Linked DNA regions of Homo sapiens. Each later gene encodes a partner of the first gene's protein in a complex. Each region holds a gene or a part of one and is shown on either strand. Other genes may lie near its edges. The genes, in order: ADRA2A and GNAO1. A codon is read from its position in the direction of its gene.

The links.
Region 2: the proteins of ADRA2A (region 1) and GNAO1 are in contact, whole or in part, in a cryo-EM structure (PDB 7W6P), measured with the Homo sapiens proteins. Residues at the interface, in NP_000672.3 of Homo sapiens: Arg77 (codon at 7,186), Arg146 (codon at 6,979), Ser149 (codon at 6,970), Ile150 (codon at 6,967), Ala153 (codon at 6,958), Ile154 (codon at 6,955), Asn157 (codon at 6,946), Leu158 (codon at 6,943), Arg160 (codon at 6,937), Pro162 (codon at 6,931), Ile234 (codon at 6,715), Ala238 (codon at 6,703), Arg241 (codon at 6,694), Arg383 (codon at 6,268), Arg386 (codon at 6,259), Phe387 (codon at 6,256), Val390 (codon at 6,247), Leu391 (codon at 6,244), Phe444 (codon at 6,085), Asn445 (codon at 6,082), His446 (codon at 6,079); in NP_066268.1 of Homo sapiens: Ile28, Lys32, Lys193, Asn194, Leu195, Asp218, Phe336, Thr340, Asp341, Ile343, Ile344, Ala345, Asn347, Leu348, Gly350, Cys351, Gly352, Leu353, Tyr354.

Annotation. Positions count from the first base shown.
Region 1 is NC_000010.11:111,069,265-111,085,410, reverse strand, and holds ADRA2A (alpha-2A adrenergic receptor), read right to left. Parts: upstream 8,383-16,146; 5' UTR 7,415-8,382; coding exon 6,017-7,414; 3' UTR 4,504-6,016; downstream 1-4,503. UniProt on the Homo sapiens protein: Alpha-2 adrenergic receptors mediate the catecholamine-induced inhibition of adenylate cyclase through the action of G proteins.
Region 2 is NC_000016.10:56,327,489-56,334,488, reverse strand, and holds part of GNAO1 (guanine nucleotide-binding protein G(o) subunit alpha), read right to left. Parts: intron 5,859-7,000; coding exon 5,698-5,858; intron 1-5,697. UniProt on the Homo sapiens protein: Guanine nucleotide-binding proteins (G proteins) function as transducers downstream of G protein-coupled receptors (GPCRs) in numerous signaling cascades.

The DNA.
Region 1 (16,146 bases):
TTTCAATTCCCCTTCTTTCATCCCTTCACAGGGTGCCATCTTGTTTTTCTCAGGTATAGATTTTAAAGAGGTCTCAAGTCCTGGGGACAACATTAACAGCCTCTCACTCTTGCCTCCCATCCCCTCCAGAATTCTCTGTAGTCAGATAAACTGCTCCTTCCACAGAGAACAGGACAGCCTGGAGGCTACAGAATATGCCTGCCAGAGAAGCAGTGTTGGCTGCCCCAGAATGCGCACATTGCATCATCCCATCCTCCTCCTAGATTGGCTCCATTGCCCTAGAAGGGGAGTGGCATTCCACCTCGGGGGAGCAGACTCGCAGGCAGGGAGGGGCCAACTGACATGACAACCAGTGAGACGCACCACACTCCCCTTTAATTCCCTTTGTGACCTCTTCCCCTGGTGTGTACACATATACCCTCAACTGCCCAGATGCTTCCACGCCAGGCCCAGGTGAGCAAAGTGGTCCTCAGTGTCCATTGGTGCCTGTTTACACGCACACAGAGATACATACACACTCACACACCCATACACGCTCACATGTTACACACACATACACATAGGCTTAGCCTATGTTTGGAAAACACACCAAACCCTCACTTCTACCCCAGCCTCAATAAGGCCAATGGCCGTTAGCGCCAGATCTCCCTACAGAGAGCACATGGCTTGGCCCTGTCCAGTGTGCCTCACCCATGGCCTGGACAGAAGGAGAGAGCAGACCGGCATTTCATAGAATTATAAAATGGATCATCAGAAAAGCCCCGTGAGATCCCTTAACCCAGTATTACCCAACAAGAGTTCCAGCAAACATGAGTCTCTGAGATGCTCTGTTAAAAAAAAAAAAAAAAATGAAATTCCACAGTCCAGGGAGTTTGGGAAACAGCACACCACGTCATCCTCTCTCAGACAATCGGAAACCACATAGGCACATTAAAGGCTCTGAGAGATCCTGAAGGAGATGTACCTATTAAAGACTGCTTACCCCAGCATTTCACCAGATAGGTGGCAGACAGGGAAGAGATGATACGTAGGTGACAGACAGTAGAGACAGATAGAATGATAATGTCAATAGATAATGTAGATAATATAGATTTTGTAGTTGAATTAACTGCACAGAACACACTGTTAAATAATATTAGACCAACCACTTGCATTTCATAAATGAAGAAGCAGGGACTCAGAGAGGGATTTGCTCAAGACCACATCGCTGGTAAAAGACAAAACTGGGCCTAGAACGCAGGCCTCCTAATCCTCAGTCTAGGCTATTTCCAACAGACCCTGTTCTATTTTTTTTGTATTTAACTAACTCTAAGCCCCAGGATTTCTGGTAATCAAATAGATCAATGCTATTTCCAAAACAAATCTGAGTGTTAGTGATTTTGCTCCGTGACTTGACGTGGCCTCCCTTTCGCGCGTGCCCTCTGCTAAGGAAGGTGCCCCTTCCTGCACCCTGGACTCTCAGGCCCACTGTGAGGGGTGGCAGGGCCCAGGGCAGAGGCCAAAGGGCTAACCTGGCACTGGGCTCTGGACCTCGGTACCTGGATCCTATTATGCTACTGAGTCAAGGACGTAGACTTCCTTACAGGTGTCCCCAAATGGGGACAGGACCTTGTCATGCCATCCCCAAGATGAGGTTGGATGAAAGCTGAGGTCTGACTTGGGCCTAGGTGCCACTGCCCAGGCCTGGCACTGGTCCCACAGGACTCAGCTGCTAGAACCAGAGCTTCCTTCGCGGGCCTAGCCTTCTCAGAGTGTGGACATCCCAACTCCCACATTCTATGCCCTGAGCTCCCAGCCACAGCCACCTCTCCCCCACTGCTCACTCACAGTACAGATGCCTATTACCCTTGGTGGGCACACAGCATCCTCTCCCCCACTGCCACACTGTCACTGTGTGTGGCTAATGAGTGCTTTTCACAGGAACATCCTGTCTCCCCATGTAGCTCCAAAGCTTCCAGAGGGCAGAGGCAGGCCCTAATCTCACTCCACAGGGACAAGTGGTGAGCTTTGCACAGTGCATGCAGGGAAGGAAGAGAACTGCCTTGCAATGCCTAGGATGGTCCTTGACACAAAGCAGGCACAGGGGATCCTCTGGGGTTGATTAGCAACTCACCACATCCCAAAACAAAATAGAATTCATGTTGGGTGCATATGGCATCAGACGGAGAGTCACATGGAAGAGTGGGCTCAGGGGCTCCTGGAATGCTACATAACCAACAGCTTTTCTAGGTCTCAGGTCCCTTGATCTGCCACTACAAGGTAAGAGTTAAGGATTGATGAGGATGCTTCTGGCTCTAAATCTCTGATTTGATTATACAGTCATAGACAGGGGAAAGCCCAAGCCACGTTTTCATCATTCTCTCCCCCAGCCTTTTAGCATAGAAGAAATTGAACAAAGCCTTGGGGAGGAGGAGACTGTGCTTGTGCCCAGGCTCAAATGAAGGCACTACCCTTCCCCCAACCCAGCACACTTGCACGAGTAAATCTAGCAAGACACACTTCAGACCCAAAAGCCAATGGCTTTCAATATCCCAACCAAAGTTACATAAAACAGGAGATTCGGCCACGAAGACAGACCCTCTTGGCCCAGATACTCGGGAACAGATACTATGCACAGGAAAATGTGGGGTTAGCTCTTTAAGCCAAGATCCCTGTGGGAGCCATTTCACCTTAATTTCCCTCCCCACCCCACACCTTGGCAGACTGTTGCTTGAGCCCTTTGCAAATGAATAAACAGTGATTCCTACTGTGAACTCAGAAACCCACCCATGCCTGGGCTCCAGCCCTCTCTCCCCCACTTTCTGCAACCTCCATCCACCTCTGAGGTTTCTCTGCTTCTGTATCGAGGAGGAGGGAGCATGACACCAGAGGCCCCTCCGTGTAGCACCTCAGCCCATGCTTCTTCCCCCTCGGCGGGTGGAGGCAAGGCAAACACTTCCCTGACAGACAGGACAGAGCTGAGAGTCAACAGCAAGCAGTATTTGTATCTGCTCCTGTGGCTGGGACACACAGCCTGGGTCCTGGGGGCTCGCCAGGCAGGCTGTTGTCTGGCACTGTTTGCCTTTGGGGCAATGGGTACACTGGAGTGAGGAGGGAGAGGAGAGGCTGGGGTGAGGGTGGGATGGGGAGCAGGCCACAGAACCAGACCAGGGAGCCAGCCGTGGCACCACAGGCCAGGAGGCTGTTTTCTGAAGCCTCTGAGCCAGGGTCACTGGAGCCCAGCACCTGGCCATCCTCCTGTGTGCCGGCTCAGAGGATCCAGGTGACGGCAGGAACTCCTCACCCCCTCAGAGCCATGGTCTTCCCTCTCCCAGGCCCCTCAGTGCCCAGATCATTTCTCAGGGCTCTCTACCCTCCCACTGCTGCATACACAGACACCCTCTCCTGCACGAGAGAAGCAAAGGAAGATGAGGAGATGCTGCATGGCCCAGAGGGTGCAGAGGACCTGCTTCTGGGGGGTGTCCAAAGCTGGTCCGCACATATTACAGGTGACTGGGCTCACAAAAGCTGGCCTCCCCCAAAACCACAACCTGACGCTTGTGTTTGCCCCTCAAACCCCCCTCCTCCATAAGTGGCTATTCATCAGTACTGCATCTGACTACACACACAGAACTACTACTACACATCTCTCAGCTGCGCCCTAACCCGGGCAGCCTGGAGCCAGAGCCCTGTCACCTAGCGCCTTGGGATCCTGAGCAAGTCGCTTCCTCTTGCATCTGCATTTGCCTTCTCATCTGTCAGATGAGGGGTTGGACTCCTGGATCACTAAGGCCCCTTCCAGCTTCAAAGTGCCATTACCATAGTATGAGGGCCATAAGCCCTCCTAGACAGCAGAGCAGACTTTGATATTATAGCAATGCAACAAGAAGGATGCATGCCTTCTGGCCAGAGACAACTCAAACCACCAACTAATACATGGTTCTATTCAGGTTTTAGACCATACTTAGTGCATAACCACACTATGGAGTATATGCTACATGTCATATATTATCATGCTTTAAGGTGTGATATACATTTTGGAGTATATTCCACACTTGGTGCATATACCACACTTTGGAGTAGATACACACTTTGAGGTATATAGACACATTAGGTCATGTAGACACTGGGGTATGTATACACCTTGTGTATATTAAATACTGGGATATATCTCACACCTGGTATAGATAGCACACTGCATAGACACCTCTCCACTGGGAGTGTTCTGAGAAGGGCTAATGCCAAAACTCTGGAAAGGTTCTGGGGTTAAGAGTGCAGGCCCTAGAACCAGATAAAGCTGGGTACGATGCATTTCCACCACTTGTTAACCTTGAGCAAGGTTAACAAACTTGCTCTGAGACTCAGTTTCTTCACCTGTAAAATGGGGATAGTAATAAAACTTACCTCATAGCGTTCTTGAGAAAAGTAAACGAGGCAATGCCTACAACCAGTTCACCACAGTGTCTAGCATGTCAGAAACACTTAGTAAATGGTAGCTTTGTTACTGATGGAACGTTTAAAAAATTTTTATAATGTACATTTTTTATTTTTAAAAAATCCATAAAATCAGATGTTCCCAGAGTCTTAAAGCTTTTGAAAACTCAGATAACAGACAAGAGGACCACTCCATTCATATTTATTTCACATTTGATCTGTAAACTTTTTTATTTAAAAAAAAATCCACTGTCATTAGCAACATGTGCTGACATTAGTTTTTCTTTAGTGAAATAAGAGTGCAGGCCTTAAATTGTCTCTGTCTAAAACATGTAGAAATGCAGATGTAAACACAAAGTCTCTGCCCTCCTCCCCTGACTTTGGCAGTTCATCAATGACATGATCTCAACCAGAAAAGCACGGAGGGGGGAAAGGACAACATTTTGATACCTAACAGCTCTTGGGGAAGAAACTGTACAGTTTGGCAGGCCCATTTGTCTTTTCAAACTGTTTACCTTGGGCAAATTGTATCAGGTTTGCTTCTTCCACATAATTTCCACTCCTTGGAGTCTAAAAACAGCAGCTAAAAGATTTCCCCATAGTCAGCACTTTCGGGGCAGGAGGGGCACACAGACATACAAGATAGAAACATACATATTCTTCTTCAAGCAGTGGCCCTGGAGGGAGAGAGGGAACACTGGAAAGAGAGGTTTTAAAGTGAGTTACTGGGGCAAACAGTGCATCAGAGAATAATGGCTTTATACACAGGGCTGATGTGAGGCAGAAAGGCTCATTTACTTATGTCTTGATCCACCATCATAATATTTACATAGGAAAAGGCAATTATGCTGTTAGGCACAGGAAAAAAATGGACAGAAATCTTTTCCCTGTCAGGAAATCTCAAAGCAGGTCCGTGTCGAAGGGACAGTCACCAGTTGCTGGTGAAAACGACGACATAGAGGGACTTCATAACACCAGAAAGGGCTTGCATTGCAAAGGGGCTTGGCCTGAACCAGACAGCTGTGTCTGCCTGGAAGGCATCTCTCCCAAGGCCAGGATTTCAACATCAAAACCAAGGCCAAGAGATATGGGGGCCCCATGTGTGCTATCAAAAATAGTGTATATTTACAGCGGGGGATGGGGAGGGCAGGCAGGGCTGCCCTTAGCATTTTTCTTTAAAAAGAGAGAGAGAGTTGGGAATGGAAGGGGAATTAGCCAGGGCTAGGTAACCCCCATCCATTAACCTTTTGTGAGCCATGCCCTTGTAGTCCAGTGCTTGCTCTGAAGAGCTGTGAGGGCTGTACCAGGCGAAGAGGGTGAAAATACCTTTAGGAAGCAATAGTGATTAGGGGTGGCCCACTAGGAAGATGGCTCCAGGTCAAGAGTGGCCAAACCAACAACTGGGGATGTGTGGGCCTGGCAGCAAGAAGCTTCCCTTGTAGGAGCAGCAGACGCCCGCCCGCAGGAGGCTGCAGAGCCACCCCAGACGAGGAAACGCAGAGCAGGCAGCGCCCGGGTTTCTGAGTGCCCTGGGGCTAAGCACCCCTCGATGCCCCCCGCTGCCTGCAGTCAGCGTGAGTCTACGCGGGCGCCAGCGGAAACCTCACACGATCCGCTTCCTGTCCCCCCGACAGAGGATCTTCTTGAAGGCGCGGCGGAAATCGTGGTTGAAGATGGTGTAGATGACCGGGTTCAACGAGCTGTTGCAGTAGCCGAACCAGAAGAAGAATTTGAAGAGCGTGCGTGGCACGGAGCACCCGACGGCCGTGAGCGTGTAGGTGAAGAAGAAGGGGAACCAGCACACCACGAACACTCCGATGACCACGGCCAGCACGAACGTGAAGCGCTTCTCGCGGTTCTGCCGCCCGCGCCAGCGCGACGCCTTGGCAGCCCCGACGCGCTCCTCCCCCGGCCCTGCAGCCGGCGTCCCGATCCCCGTCGCCCCCGGCCCGCGCCGCGGCAGGCTGTCGCCCGGCTTCACCTGGCTCGCTCGGGCCTTGCCTTTGCCCCGGGGACCGCGCTCGGGTCTGCGGGGCCCTGGAGGCCGCTCGGCGTGGTCGGAAGACGAGCTCTCCTCCAGGTCCAGCGCGTCGGTGTCGCGCGGCCCGGCCGGCGCGGGCTCGCCAGGGGCGCCGTTGAGCTGGGTGGGCAGCGGTTCGGCCTCTGCGCCCCCCGGGCCCGCGCTGCGCTCGGGGCCCAGACCGTTGGGCCTGCGCTCGGTGCCCCCCGGCGGCGCGGCGACGGCGTCCGGACCCCGGCGGCTGGGTGGCACGCGGGTGCGACGCTTGGCGATCTGGTAGATGCGCACGTAGACCAGGATCATGATGAGGCAGGGAGCGAAGAAGGAGCCGATGCACGACGAGATGACGTACCACTTCTGGTCGTTGATCTCGCAGCGCGGCTCGGCCGGCTGCGGGCCGCCGCCGCCGCCCTTCTTCTCGATGGAGATGAGCGGCGGGAAGGAGATGACGGCCGAGATGACCCACACGGTGATGATGATGGCCTTGATGCGGCGCGGCGTGCGCTTCAGGTTGTACTCGATGGCCTGTGTGATGGACCAGTAGCGGTCCAGGCTGATGGCGCACAGGTGCACGATGGACGACGTGCAGAAGAGCACGTCGAGCGCCAGGTAGATCTCGCACCAAGCCTTGCCGAAGTACCAGTAGCCCATGACCTCGTTGGCCAGCGAGAAAGGGATGACGAGCGTGGCCACCAGGATGTCGGCCGAGGCCAGAGACACCAGGAAGAGGTTTTGGGGCGCCTTGAGCGCGCGGCTCGTGAACACGGCGATGATGACGAGCACGTTGCCGAACACGGTGAGCAGCATGAGCAGGCCGGCCAGGCACACCAGCGTCAGCGTCACCTGCAGGGAGTAAGGGGTGGCCCGGGCGCCGCCCCCCGGCGCCTCGGTCCCGTTCCAGCTCGCGTTGCCCGCGTCCGGCTGCAGGGAGCCCATGGGCGCAAAGCTGCCCTCGGCCAACGGCTGCTCCTGGCGGAACATGAACGCGGGCGCCCGCTGGCCTGGGCCTGCTGCCAGCTGCCTTCCGGCCCGGCGCCCGTGGGTCCTCCTCTTCCTCCGGCGCCCCGCTCGCCTGGCTGCGGCTCACATAGGGAGGGGGCCGCAGGGAGGCCGGGCCCGAACTGGAGGACCGCTAGCGGCCCATGGCCCGGGTCCCGCGAACTGCGCCTGGCTCGCGCTTCAGACGCTCTCGGTGGGCGCCTTCTTGCTCCGAGCTCCTAATACAGCCAAGTTTTATTTCTAAGCGGCGGGAGAGAGTAGGGAGAGCCGATGGGTAAAGAGAGATTTATTCTTCAAGAAGGGAGAACAAAAATCATCGGTGGCCTGATAACTTGGAAGGATGACAGGAAATTAAATATATATATACATATCAATATCTGTATCTTGAATCTTGAGCCTGAGCGAAAGCAAGAGGTCTTACCGTGTGCGGGGCCCGCCCCCACCCCGGGAGGCAGCCGAAGGGTGCTGATGCGAGCTCGGGGGTCCTATGTCTGTCGCCTTACATCCCCGAAGCGATTACCGACTCTCTGGCTTCCCCCAGACGCTGCGGTTCTGGCCCGGCCCGGCCCGGGGCTGGGGCGCGGACTCTGCCGCCTCTCGGAGCGCCGCGAGACTTCCAAAGTTGTGCGCCCTGCTGGGGCTGGGGCACACTGTGCGGAGCTCCGGGACGGCGGCGGCGGCGGGGTGAGGAGTGTGGGGGCCGCATGAAGGCACCCCCGTCCTCAGGCGGGCCGGGGCAGGTGAACGATCAGCTCTCCAGGAGCCGCGACGGAGGCAGGGGTTCTCCTGGGCGTCCGCCTGGTGGGCGCCGAGCGCTGCTGGATGGGCCGGGGTCCGACGACAGCGCGAGTTGGGGCAGGAGCGCAAGGCGGGGAAGAAGGCGCTGGAGTGGCCGGGCGGCGGCACGCCGGCTGCTGGGCTTCTGCACCGAGCTGGAGCTGCTGCTGCTCCGCTGCGCTCACGGTGGACTCGTTTTATAGCCCCAGGATCAAGCAAGCGTTGCTGAGCAGCCGGCGTCAGCCCCCACGTGGGAAGCCGACCCTCCCCCGCCCCTCGCACCACCCCTCCGCCAGTCTAGCGCCCGCGCCTAGCGCTGGACCTCGGGGAGCGTTGCCCTCAGGCGGGACGAGCCCTTTGGAGAGGCGGGTACCTTGAGCTAGAGACTTAAAGAGGGAGCCCGGGGGTGGGGGGTAGGGGAGGAGCGGCCCCTGCTGGGAGTTGGCCATGCAGCTCCGGGCCGACGGAGCAGAACGCAACGGGCACCCGTGAGTGCCCCCAAGAAGCTGGATCTTGGGAGAAAAGGGAAGAAAAAAATGGAAGGGAATCCCCGCCCAAATCGAGGGAAGTAACCTCCGGTGTGAGTTACGTCTGGAGCAGCCCAGCTCCGGGCCAGAGCCGACGCGGTCCGCAGGTGCTCCTGGAGGCTGGGGAGAAAGGGGTCCTGGAGAGGGAGGAAGGCGCGGCTTCGGATGGAACCCCTGGGGCGGAATGGACAGCACCCACGGGGAAGTGGTACAAGCCGGAGTTCAGACCTCCGCTTAGGGAAGAAGCGGCTACGTGTCCTCCCAGCCGCGATGCTGTCTGCGGGAAACGCAAGACCCGGGGTCTGGACCGCGCCCCCTTAGACCGAGGTGGGGAGGGGTCCAGGAGCCGAGCGCCAGGGCAAAGCGAGGACGCACTGACACCTGCTGGCCGCTCGTGGTCACGGCTGAGAAGCGACCCGCTGACGCCAGGCGCCTCCTCCCGTCTCTTAGGTCTTCTGCCAACAGAGCCTTCTCCTATCTCCGAACAAATTGGTTTCTAAGCTCAGGAAAGGAGAACCCAGAGTTTGAATTGCACCCTGCCGTGTTGCAGAAATCTTCCTAAAGCAGATACTCGTGTGTCTACCCCTGGCGGGAGTGGGGGTTTGTCTAATAAAGTCACATCAGGAAGGGCTCAGCAGGCACCGCCGGCCAGAACGGGCATCCCACTCTGGACCCGCACAGCCCACCCTTCCTGCAGATCCGAGAGAGGCCAGGATCCTGCCTCCTTGGTTGCACAGCTCTGGCTTGCTGGGAATCATTATGTTTTTGTTGAGGACCGAAAGCTAGACTCCACTCCCGCCCCGCATCCCACCCCCATTCAGATGTACACACAGCATCCTTCAATAAGGGGAAGAGGGAGTAGAATATTTTCCATGTTCTCTCTGATAAGAATAGCGGTGGGGGCGGGGGGGAGTGGGTGTGCGGCGAATGGCAAGTTTTTCCGTGCGTGCTAGCTGTCCTAGGATAGATTTTAACGGTCACTAGAGCACTAGCTTGCACCCTGCTAGCTGCACTTTTCAGATGAGAGCAAGCAGTTTAATGGTAAAACCCAAGAGGGTAGGAAATTTCAGCAGGAGAGAGATTAGACTTAAAGGAATGTCGTCTTATTTAAGGAACCACTAAACCAAAATGCCTTGTGCAGTCACCTAAGTTGGAATTCCAAGGATGGAACAGGCTGCCTCTCTGTGCAGCCAGCTGCAGGCTTAGGTCTGGCTGGGGGCTGATGGCTAAATTAAGGGCCCTGAGAATCACCTTCATTCCCAGCTGATGTCTATAGCCCGCACCAGTGATACAGTTATTGGTGCTGCTGCTGTTCATGTAGTCTCAAAATCTGTACTTTCCAAAGTATTTCACAGAAGTCTCATTTGACTTCAGTACCTTTGTCTCCCAATCTTTGCCCTAATGGTATAAACTCCCTTTCCAGTGTTAGTTCTGAGGAGCCTTTCTAATCTCCCTTTCTGGACAATCTAAAGGAAGCTGAGAAGACAATTTCCTCGCTCTGTTGAGTCACTCATTTTCCATCTTCTACTAAAGTCTCTGCTCTGAGGCTCTTGGCAGGGGCTTTGGACATCGCCAGTAGGCTCAGTTGGAAACATGGCTACAGTCATTTTTGCACAGCAACTAGGAACCCCACACTTCAAGTATGAATACTAAGAGACAAAAATCAGAGCCCGTGGCAATCTGGGGTTTGCTGTGTTGCTGTTTGTAGAACTCGGGAACTGAGTCTTAGGAGACCATCACTTACCATCTGCACCCCAGCTTCCAACACACTGCTCTTCTTCCTAATTTCAGAATCAAAAGAGGAAATAAAAACAAAGTTTACAGTAATTATCTTTCTTGAAATTTCTGCTGCTAGCCTGTGTATGACACCTCTTGTCATATTTTCTAAATGCTTCCCAAACAGCCAGGTGGTTTCTTAATTCCCTGATTTGGAGTCTTTTCTCCTAAAATGGGAACAGGTCTTTTCAGAGCCAGGAACCCTGAGGCCAATACACAACGAATACCAATAATAACAAGTGCTGCATTTTATTAAGTACCATGATGTATGCACCATGTGTAGGGTGATATACATGGCCCCTTTATACACAGAGTTCTTATTCCTGTCACATGTTCCTTATCACCAAAGGTTCTGCCTCCTCAGTTTGTCACACAGGGTCAGTATCTCTGAGCTTTGAAAAGCTATGTGGACACCATTAATTTTTGCTAGAAGATTTCATGCTGTGCAAGCTGAGTGAGACATTGCTGAGCAGAAAGATATCCACAAATATAATAATTCTCAACCAGGCCTATAGATCAGCATTTCCTAGGAAGACAAAATACACTTACCAATGCCCCACCAGGGAAATTATTCACCAGGTCCAAGGTGGGATGCAGCATGTGTATTTTGACAAAACTCCTTGAGAGCTGCAGGTGTGCACACCCTGCTGAAGACTTACCACCCAAAGCAATAAATCTCAGTGGGGGACAGGAGTGATGAGCAAGTGCCCTTGTGGGGACAGGAGGCAGTGTCCAAATTACCCGGGGTAGGAAGCCAACTTGAGCTAGAAAGAGTGGGCCCCAGATTGAGAATCACTGCCCTGAGCCAGTGAGACTGCTATGACAGTGTCATAGCCCTCCAGGGAGCTGGGACAGAGCAAATAGTTGAGAGCCACTGTAAATATGGAGTTTGGGTTTGATGGCCTGAGAAGGAGTCATTTCTGGGGACCCAAATGGGGGTCCATTATTACTTATATTATTACTAAAAATAAATAGTACCTATTAGCACCAACCACATGCTAGGCACAATGCCAAGCAGTTTATGTACTATATATTATATAATTCCCAAAACAATCCCATAATGTAGATTTTATTATCTGCCTTTGTAGATGGAGGAAACTAGGCAACAGACTAAGTAAACTGTCCAGCTAATAAGTGGCAAGGACAGAGCCGAACTCTATTTTTCCTGGTGGTAAGCCCAATGAGCTTTCTAAGTTCCTTACTGTGAATCTCCAGCCTTGATCGCACTGCCAAAGAGAAACCTGCAAAATGTTCATCAGAAATGAGCACATTGACAAGTTAGCACATCCTCCTTCTAGCCCTGTCCTTTCAGTCCATTGATGTCTACTAGATTAGGACAGTACAAGGCAAGATGTATTCCCTCTTTCTGTATCTAATGCCCACTCTTGGAGGCAACGTCACATACACTCTAGGAGACTGACCATTCCCCAACAGCCAAGCTGATGGAGAGCAAGCACTACACCAACTGGTTAGGCAACCCCTCCTCCTCCTAGTAGAAGCAACCTCTCTCTCTCATGGGTGCCATACATATTTTATCATGGCTTAGATGGACTTTTCTTGCTCTAGCTTATCTATTCATTTGTATGATGATCTAGCAGGTAGAAAGGACTGTCCTTTTCATCTCTATTCCTAGAGCATCTCTAAAACAGGCTTTTTAAAAATCATATTTCTAGTACCTACTCCTTGGAGATTCTGATTCAGTAGGATGAAGGCGGGGCCTGGGTGTTTGCATTTTTAACAAGTGCATGAGTAATTCAATAAATACCAAAATATAACACACAGAGCATGGATACTTGATAAATGTGTGATGGATGAATGTATGAATGAATGAATTCTACTTACACTGAAGCTATCAAAGAGGCAAGAGGGGCCCAGAAGTTGGTGAAGTTGGTGACTACGATGGCTAGCATTTTATTCCAAAATCAGGATTTCTTAATAGTTGAGGTAGCTTAACTAGTTCAAGGATATAAGTATAGGATTCTCTCATTCTCTTTTTTCCTAAAAGGAATATGTAAGTAGAGGAAGATAAATTTATAACTATCAGCTAGGTAATTTGCCAATAAAAGAAAGCTTCTTAAGATAAATCATCTGTCCTCATGTTATATCTGAAACTAAAGTATCAGGCAATACCAAAATTTGTCTTGGCTTCTATGTCTTTGATGGTGACTTCATCTAACAAAAGTGAGGGAGCTGGCTGGGAGAGAATATTAATTGCTTACTTTTTGAAAAAAAAAGACTTGACTGTCTAAGAAAAAGAAAACATGACTCATTTAGCCTGGACTCCTAGGCTGTGACAAAATCCTCACAGATAGAAGCAATTTGGTCACACACACACATAAACACAGGCCACCCCCCCACCCACCCACCCCTGCCCCCACCACAGCCTGAACTTAAACACACACTTGCTAGTCTGAACATGATGAACAGGTGGGGAATGCAATGTTCCCGCTACTACTCATGCCGTGTGCACAGCTGGAACCAAATGCTGCAGTAAGCTACAATCATCTGTCAACTCACTGTATTGCTGACAAGGGGAAGGGGGGAGTCAATAGGGAAAACTCTATTGCTTCCTCTAAGCTATTACTTAATTCCTCCACTTCTTTGTACCTGTGCTGAAGCCCTTGGGAATCCCATCGTTATTGAAGGTTAATGGAAGCCAAAAGAAAAGCATCAACTCCAGGGGTGCTGTAAGGAGCTGCCTTATTCACCACCTACCATGTTCATCATTTGACTGCTGGATCAGTCTTGCTGTATTCACAAAAACAAGCGATGAGTCCTGCCATCGCCTTTATCTCTTTCTAACGTGCTAACCCATCCTGCCCCAGCCTGGAAAATTAAGCCAGGTGTTTTCTATCTCTGCAAGGGCTTCTGGCCAATACCAAAAAGACAGCACTTGGTACTAGGATCAACTCAACCTTGAGGATGCCAAGAAAGATTGGGCTCCCAGCTGGCTCTTCGCTGGTGTGCCACCCTGCAGGGCATGTTTGTGTTGCCACTACAATGTGACTTTTGAGAGCTTGTGTGTACACACAAAGTTTAACATCACCTACCACAGTCTTCCAAGTCAGTCCTCACAAAGCAGTGACCTTTTCCACCACATCCAGGTGAATTATCTTGTCTGCTTTGTCCAGAAGCATGAGCAAAAGCAAACCTTGAAACAGTTATGGTGAGCAATGCTTACTTGTTCTCAGGTATAACAGGTGAGCTAGAGCCACTGGGTATGAAGGAGATATTTGTCACCAACATTAATAACTCTTAAGCTAATATTCCATTAATCTAATTAGGTAAGGTAAATCACCTTTCACATTTACTCAAAGAAACCATGGAGACGCCACGCCTGAAGCATATACACCCATGCACACACACACACACACACACACACACATGCACACAGACATATTTAAGAGATGGTCTGGCTCTCACTGCTCCCTGGAAATGATCTTTTTTTCCCCATTTTTCCTAATTGATAACACAAAGCACAAACTCTTCCTTGGTAAAAGGACCACGGCCTGATAGTTTCTGGGAGGCATTCAAGTGAAGTCGTTAAGAATTTAGGCTTTAGAGTAAGAGAAACCTGAGTTCTGGTCCTGCTTCTGCCATTTCATAACTATATTTACTTAACTTCTCTAGACTTCAGTTTCCTCATATGGAAAAAGGGGAAATAATTTCACATATCTCATGCATATCCTCAAAGATTAAATGTGTGAATACATGGAAAATACATAAGACAGTGTTGGGTTTAATTGGTGCTCAGACCAGCCTGGCCAACACGGTGAAACCCTTTCTCTACTAAAAATACAAAAATTAGCTGGGAAAGGTGGCGTGTGCCTGTAATCCCAGCTACTCAAGAGGCTGAGGCGGGAGGATTACTTGAACCTGGGAGGCGAAGGTTGCAGTGAGCCAAGATTGCACCACTGCACTCCAGCCTGGGCAACAGAGCAAGACTCTGTCTCAAAAAAATAAATAAAATAAAAAATAAAAAAATAAATCTAGAGAAAGAGAAGAGAGTTGGAATCTCAAAGCTGATGGAAGCTTGAATAGGATAAAGAGGTGAATGGTTTTTTAGGGTGATTTCTTCTGCAATTCGAGCCAACCCAAAGTGCCTAAAATATAACAGAAAATGGATTGATTCACATAAATGAAATTTATTTTAACCTGAGGCAGAGCTGGCTTTGGGCAAGATGGATGCAGTAACTCAGTACTGTCACTAAGAAGCTGATAACTTTGTGGAGAAAGAGGATTAAGCAAATAGAGAGTAATAAATGTAAGGAATCATGCAAGCCTCCCCACCAAAAAAAAAAAATTATATATATATATATGTATGTATGGGAAAGAAGCTGCCTTGGTTTCTCCTAGCACTCCAAATTCCAAATGTTGTTGCTAGGAAGTTGAGATGAACCTCTTGCTTCTTTTTCTTGGATTCCATGAGATTTCAGAGCCCACACAACTACTTCCCCTTTTACTTCAGCCTCTTGGAGTTGTTTTCTATTTTGTGCAACCAGAATATTTGACCAGAATGAATGCTAGAGCCTTAACTTCATAAAAATAGTTTTCATCTTCAATACGCCAGATTCCATGCTAGACAATGATCATATAATCATCAAAACATAACTTCCAATAACTTCTATACACTGCAAAGTCTTTGAGAGGAATCTTTTCTGTTAGTGTTACATATATTCAAAAAAATTAAATAACAGTTTTGATTTTAAGCACCAAATATTTTCAGTTGATGATGGCACTCTAAGTTTATGCTTCTTCTTTTCTTAGAGATGGAGACTTGCTATGTGGCCCAGGCTGGCCTCAAACTCCTGGGCCTCAAGCAATCCTCCCAGGTAGCTGGGTCTACAGGCCTACGCCACTGTGCGTGGCTTAAACTCAAGACTTTGAAGCACCCCTTTGTCCAATCATGTAGAAATGAAAGATAAACAAAAGAAATTTTAAAAGATAGACCCACTCCCGATGCCAAGCAAGATGGAGCAAGTCTATTACAGCCTCTCGGTCCAACTAAACAGCACAACTAAAACATCTGGAAAATTCAAAAAGCAGCTATCTGAAAGGCAGACAGTAACAGGGAGAGTGGAAAGGGAAAACAAAAATTGAGGAAGAAAGCCTCATGAGAGAGTTTCCTATTGATTTTTTTCCTCTTTTGTCTCTCACGTTTGATCCACGGAAGGCCTCAGTTGTGGAACTGAGCACCCCAGCCGGTATGAGCAACTCAGAGGGTGAAGCTCCCTCTTTTGACAGAGAATGGTGGAGAGGTCCACTGTGAGCTAGGAAATGTGGAGAAACTCTCTGAACATTTTTTCTTATTTGTCTTGTTTTTACTCTCCTCACCCTGCCACTAGAGTGGCCCCAAATAGGGAAATGTGCAGTAGCCGTATAGGCAGCTACAACTTTGAGGAGGAAAAAAAAGGTCTTTTCTGGCAGTAGGAACAGGGAAAGAAAGACCCTGTGCTCTAAAGGGCAGAGCCGGGGAGGGATTTCAGGACTCTTACTGTCTTTTTTTTTGCTCTTTTACCTTACCACTCTGCCCAGGGACTGAATCAGTCATGCAGAACTGGTGGCAGGATCATGGGTAACTAAAACTCTAAAAGAAACCTATCTTTCTGTCCAGAGGAATGGGACAATGGGTCC
Region 2 (7,000 bases), on another chromosome or scaffold:
CTCAGACAAGATCAAGCTTTTATATGAGACTACCATGTTTATTATAATACTGTTTTGTCATTTTTTCATTTAAAAGATAATAATGGCCAACAGATAGGTTCTATTCTTTGCATGTGTAACCATGTTTCATGTGTAATTTCCCTGAGTTAAATGTACTAAAACTGGGGCTCATCGAAGGTAAGTACCTTGCCTGAGGCTGTGACCCGGACCCTTGGCTCCAGAGGCCATAATTTTATTACTGTCTGGGGCTTCAGCGGCCCCTGAGCAGTTCCCTGCCTTCTCCACACTTCCTTCTCACTTACCAAGGGGTCTGTGTGCCCCTTCCAATTTGATGCTCTTGGAGGCTCAGGGCTGCACAGCCATACAGCGGCTGGGCCTCCCTGGGACCCGGTCTTTGGAATCAGGGCTCTTTACCCCTGCTACCTCCTGCTGTGGGGACAGACCAGGCTTTTGCAAGTCACCTGCCCAGGCCTCAGGCCAAGCACTCAGAGGACGCTGCCTGCAAGGGCTTTGGGGTTCATTGTGGGTTAAGTTTGAACCTAAAGCCAGGGTAGGATCTGGGAAATCAGGAAGTGGGGAGCTGGGCCAGGCCTGAAGGAAGACTCAGTGATCCATGGAGCCTGCCAGGCCACCCATCCCTGCTGCCGGGGCAAACCACAAGCAGCCCACAGGGAGGAGCCCCAAGTGTCTGAACCACAGAACGATGTGGGGTCCCAGGCTGCATCTGCTCCAGGACCTGCTGGGGGCCAGCTTGCTGGCTGGACCTGCAGTTACCACTGCATGAGAGATGGGCATGCTGACCAGCTCATGGATGTCCACAGGGCTGGAAAGGGCAGATGACTTCGCCAGCTAGGGTGTTCACTGATAGAACCCAGTGACAATCCTTGTGAGAATGCCCCTAAGAAAAGAAAACAGAAGGGTGGCTTCCAAGGCTCAGGGAGGTAAGCTTGAAGTCACACTGCGAGAAAATGAACTTGGCAGCCGGGTGCGGTGGCTCACGCCTGTAATCCCAGCACTTTGGGAGGCCAAGGTGGGCGGATCATGAGGTCAGGATTTTGAGACCATCCTGGCCAACATGGTGAAACCCCATCTCTACTAAAAATGCAAAAATTAGCTGGGCCTGGTGGCAGGTGCCTATAATCCCAGCACTCAGGAGGCTGAGGCAGGAGAATCGCTTCAACCCAGGAGGCGGAGGTTGCAGTGAGTTGAGATCGTGCCACTGTACTCCAGCCTGGGTGACAGAGCAAGACTCTGTCTCGGGGAGAAAAAAAAAAAAAAGAAAAAAAGAAAATGCACTTGGCTGGGATTCCAGCCCAGTTCTGACTGGCTCCAGACCCCACGCTCTTAAACTGGACATCATCAGCATTTTAAAAATCCAGAAAAAAAATTTAAACAGGACTCCTGGCCTCCTCTCCTGAGCCTGACTGCCCTCCGTGGACAGGAACGGTGTGGGGATGGGGTGAGAGAGCCGAGGCTGCAGAGCAGACCTGTACACGCCCCCGGCCTCACAGCCTCCTCGCCAGCCAGTGGCATCTGGGCAGGCTCTGGTCTCAGCCAGAAGGAGCCTCTCCCAAGCCTCTGTGCCTGCCCCGCCCTGGCGCCCATGACCTCTGCTTCCAAGCTGTGAGGACGCCCTCTGCTGTCATCTGCAGCTGGACACCAGCCTGGAAGCGTTTGGTCCTGCTCTTCCTTTCCCAGCCAGGGCAAACCTCCTTTAGATGGGCAACCTGGCCCTCTGGCCTCTCTGTGCTGGCCGAGCCTCATGCAAGGAGACGGCTGTGGAGGGTGGGCAAGGTGTGGGAGAACTGCTTAACAACCCAGTCGGGAAGGCTGACTGTGCACCTGCTGTCCATCCCACCTAGCCACTGTTCCAGGAGCTGGGGATGGGGCAGTCGACACAGCCCCACCTTCCCAGGGCCTGTGTTCCAAGTGAGTGTGCACACGTGTGTGAGGTGGTAAACAGAAGAGTCAGAGAGATGATATGTCAGGAGGTAGTGTGAGAGAACGAATCAGGCTATTAGTGATGGGGGAGAGCTGCTGGGGGCTGCTATTTGATGCAGGGTGGTTGGGGAAGGCGTCTGGATAGGGGAGACTGAGGGGAATGAGGGAGCAAGTGGGCCTCGAGTGGCCCAGTGGAAACACTGGCAGGCATGGCGGCAGGAAGCACACGTGGAGGGGCCAGGTGGTGGGTGAGGCTGGGGAAGGTGGTGGAGGTGAGGGTGGCCAGAGTCCGGCTGGGGCAAGCAGGCCCTTGAGGTCATTGTCAGGGCTTGAGCTTTTGCTCTGAGTGAGATGGGAGCCCCTCGAGGGTTCTGGCCAGAAGCATGTTGACAACGGCCCTGTTGCTGCCATGAGAGCAGGTCAGCGGGTGGGGCCTGCAGAGCTGCTGTCGTCACCAGATGGCACTGGCACAGTGGGGGTGGCTGTGGAGGGTGTGAGTGGTCAGAATCTGATGTACCTGCCAGGGGAGCTGCATCTGCTGGTGGCCTCGGTGTGGGATACAGGAGGACGAGCAGAAGTAGAGATACCTCCACGTGGTGGAATGAGACACATTTAGAGGGAGGGAGGAGCACACAGAGCAGCTTCTAGTGGGAGGATGGGAGCCAGGGGTTCCACGGGCTCATGTTAACTTGAGACTCATTTGATGTCCAAACAGGCACTGAGTAGGCAGAAGTCAGGAGGGAGGGCTGGGCTGGCGATATGAATTTGAGAGTTGTCCAAGTGTACAAGGTGTTTAAAACGAGACAGGAGAAGGTCACCAGGCACCAGGCCTTGAGAGGAGGTGCTTCTGGGATGGAGCTTGGGGACGGGATACAGCAGCCCCCAGCAGACCTCCCCCATCACCAGTTGCCTGGGTGGGTGGGCAGGAGGCATCGAGGGAGTCTGGAAAGGGCGGCCCGAGAGGAGGCGGGGGCTGGGAGTGAAAGGAGGTACCAGGTACTAGGGGACTGAACCCTGAACCCTGAGTGGGAGGAGGCTGATGGAGCAGCCCCCAGGATAGGACTGGGCTATGAGCCATCTCAGCAGGCGGAGGAGCAAGAGCTCGATAGGAGTGGGGTCAAGAGAGAAGGTGAGGAGAGGAAACGTCGGACGCCAGCATGGACAACTCAGTGGGGAACTGGATTTGAGGAAAGCCAATGCCAACCAGGCCCCAGAGCACCTTTCACAGCCCCTGGTTGGATGTGCCCAGGGTTTCTGGGACCTGCCTCTAGGTAGTTATCCAGAAGGGAGAGCCAGCCCTGTTCACAGAGGCCGGGGTGCACCAAGAGCCTGCTCAGGAGCCTGTGCCCTGGTCCCTCCCCTGTAAAGGGCTGGGCAGAGAAGTGCTTTGGTGGTTGGGGCATTAGGGTGTCAATGGCACCCCCTGGAAGCACGTGCTGTGGCAGCCCTGTGAGTCCTCCCTCTCCTTTCCAGCACAACAAACCTACTCTGATCTGCTTTCTATACTGGGCCCAAGACTTTGTCAGAAGCTGAGGTCTAACTGCTAAGACAGGAAATGTGCCAGGCCCTTCCGGCCCTGGCCACCTGTGTGTCCCCTGTCTTTCCTGCCCTCTCCCAGAGGGGAGACACGGAAGGCCCAGCCACAGTGACAGAAGAGAATGGTAACATCATCAACCTGGGAAGTGGAAAATTTGAAAGAAGGCAGAGATGAGGCTGCAGGGAGGAGAATTTCCTCAGCTTACTTGGTGGGGAGTTGACAAATACTGACTCAAGTTTCTTATTTAAAGTTATAAAGGTAAGCACCGGAAGAACTAAAAATAATCCTGTAACTAGCAAAAAGCCGGAGGTGAAGGTGGAGAGCGATGGAAGGAAGGAAGGTGAGCTGAGCTCCCTCGATTCCAGAGTGGGTGGCAGTAAATACTATTTTGAGTCAGAGGATCAAGTTTTTCTGGATGCCACTGGGACAAATAAATGGAAGTGGGTAAAAGTGGGAGGGGCAGGGCTGGTGGGGGGAGTAGGAAGATTACTTCTCATTTTACATCCCTCTGCATTTGTTTAATTTTTTTTTGGTAATGGATTCATGTTATAATTAGTGAAATGGGTAAAAATGTAAGTGGAGAGCAGAATTTGCTGAGCCACTAGAAGACAGATTTGGGCCAGCTGGCCCTAAAGGCCCTTGAGGGTCTTGCTGGCCCTCGGGGAGGAGGCCCTGGACTCCAGGGCAGGGACAGGGAGTGGAAGAAGGGAGGAGGGCAGCTGAAAGTCACTCTCTCCTGCCTAGCTCTGGTCTGTGATTTGTGCATACGGAATGGTGGACACTGAGCTTCTGGGCTCACTGCCCTGACCACCAGGGTGTCCCTGGGAGCTCATCAGGCCCGGGGGCCTAGGTAGTCATCACCTGGGACTCACAGGACTTCGGCATTTGCCCTCTGGACAATCTAGGTGTGCAGAAATGGGAAGCCGCTCCCGGCCTTGCTCAAGTCCCTAGTCTGTTGGCTGCCATGTGGCCCGTGGAAATGTCCAGGAGTGAACATTGGCCTCAGCCTCTGTCCATTGGCATTGCGTAGATCAGGGTTTCTTAATCTTGGCACTATGGATGTTTGGGGCCACGTAACTCTTTGTTGTGGGGGCCGTCCTGCACACTATGGGGTGTTTAACAGCATCTCTGGCCTCTACCTGCTAGCTGCCGGGAGCACCACTCTAGCTGCAGCCATCAAAAATGTCTCCCGATGTTGCTGAATGTCCCCTGGAGGCAAAAAGGCCCCAGCTGAGACCTGGTGAAAATGGCTGGACTGGATCATGTCAGAATCTTCCCAGCTAGTGGGATAAAGCTCAAGGGCTCCTTGCAGAAAGCCCCCACTGAATGTATGGGTACCAGATTGCAATTGCAAAGGTGGGGTGCATTTCCCGAAAGCCAAGGGGGCAATCCCAGTATCTCCATGACAGAAGACATGTCCCTGACCAACGCTGACCATCCCAGGGCTCTGGAGCCTCCAATCTAGAGGCCAAGGGCACGGAAGCAGTGAGGATGTCCTTGGAGATGCCTAGAGTGATAAAGCTGCAGCCAGTGGACCTGTGACCTGCTGTGATGGGAAGAGCCGGGAGCACCTTCTAACCAGCTCCAGCTTTTACCACTTCCCACCTCTCCGTCTTCTCTTCTGTCCTCTTCTTTCTCCCTCTCTCCCCTTCCTTTCTTCCTTCCGTCCTCCTGCCCTCCTGTCATCCCCCTTATTTAGTTATAAATAGTATTAAAGTATACATTTATTATATTAATTAGACTTACATATTCCTTATTCTTAATTTTAAAGATGGGGAATGGAAAGCTTATTATTTTTTCTAAAATAAAACAAAATGGCACCATTTCTTTTCTGCCTATATGGCTGTTGTTTTGGTTTGTATTTATGCGGTCAGGGGCTCCCTATAAAAAAACAAAGCTGCTACACTTGAAAGCTGTCTTTTTGCAGTGCCAGGCACTCTCCAGGACAAGCCAGTGACAAGGTCCCGGCCCTCTGGGAATTTCCACTGTTTGGTTGTCTCTTGCGTCCTCTGCCTCCTCTGGCCTCTTTCTCCTCCTGGGGTGCAGGAAGAGAGGCCCCTTCTCATTCCTTCCTGACACCCTCTACCTATGGGAGAACATCTCCCGGCAGGCGTGACCTCAGCCGAGAATCCTCCTTGCTCTGCCAATCCCCATCACCAGTCCCTTCCACTCCCGCATCACTGCCCGGCTCCAGGCCATGCGCCCGCTGGGACACTCACTATTTGGCAGAGTCGTTGAGCTGATACTCCCGGGACCGGTTGAAGCACTCTTGGATTCCTGAGTCGCCCCAGAGCCGCATCATGGCAGAAAGCAGCTCTGCAGAGAAGGGCTCGGTGTCTTCCATCCGACTCACCACATCACACACCATCTTGGCGTCAGCCTGTGAGGAGAGGTGGATGGTGGGCTTTGACGCTTTGGTGGGGACAGAAGACCTCTGCCAGCCAAGGGCTCTCCCCTAGCGGGGACTGTGATGAGAGCCCAGCCAGTGCAGCAGGACCGCAGCTCAGCCCACAGCCTGCTCCAGGGAGGGCCACGACCTGAGCATGCACAGTTGGGGTTCCTGGGGCCCGTGGGGCCTTCTACCACATGGATGTCCTAAAGCAGGAGCTCCAAGCTGCAGCCCATGGGGCCCCAGAGTTTTCTGGGGCAGGAAGGGAGAGTGGGCCCGGCTCTGTTCTCCACTCTCCAACTCAACCAGCAGGAAGGCAGAGTGGGCCTGGCTCTGCTCTCCACCCTCCAACTCAACCAGCAGCTCTGCTTTCATCCTGAAAACTCGGTTATTTTGTTCGGGGGAGAAAAAAATCAATGTTCTTGGCTGAGCTGTAATTTTCTATACTTCTTACACAGGGTGGAATGCAGTCCCTAGAACTGGGCTATGTAGAGGAGCAGACGTTTCGGTAGAGAATTCCGGTTAGCTGAGGGATGGGCCACAGCGGGGCTGTGCCTCAGGACTGGGGGAGGGGAGGGGCTGGTTGCCAAGTTAGTGCAGATGGCAAAAATATCTCATGCCAACACTAAATCTCAAGAACTTTGGCCCTTGGACTGCTCAAAGCCAAAAGTCCATTTTATTAATTTTTCTTGATTTGTTTGTGACCTGGGGCCTACCTTTCTCTGGGGGCAGGGGAAGCTCCTAGGTCAGGTGAAACATGGAAATGGGAAAGGACAGGTAATGAGCTTGGAGCACTCTCCTCCTCTGCCTCCTCCCTTCCTCCTTGTCTGAGTGGGTGTAGATGAATTTGCTTAAGGTGCACACGTGTAGGCTGAGCCTTCTTGAAATTACAGAAAAAGTACTGCATAATTAACAGGTTTCTTCCCCTTCCCCTCATCCTGGATACCAAAGTGGGGTCGCCTTTTCAAAGACTACAATCACATGCATGTAACATCACAACCAGGAGTGTGGTGGTCTTTGAAGATAAGAAGGCTCCTGCAGACATCCCAGGACTGCACCGTCACCGCCACCTTGCACACGGGAGTAGTACTTAGCGTACAAAGGATTTGGTGAACACACTCCGTCCTCAGAAC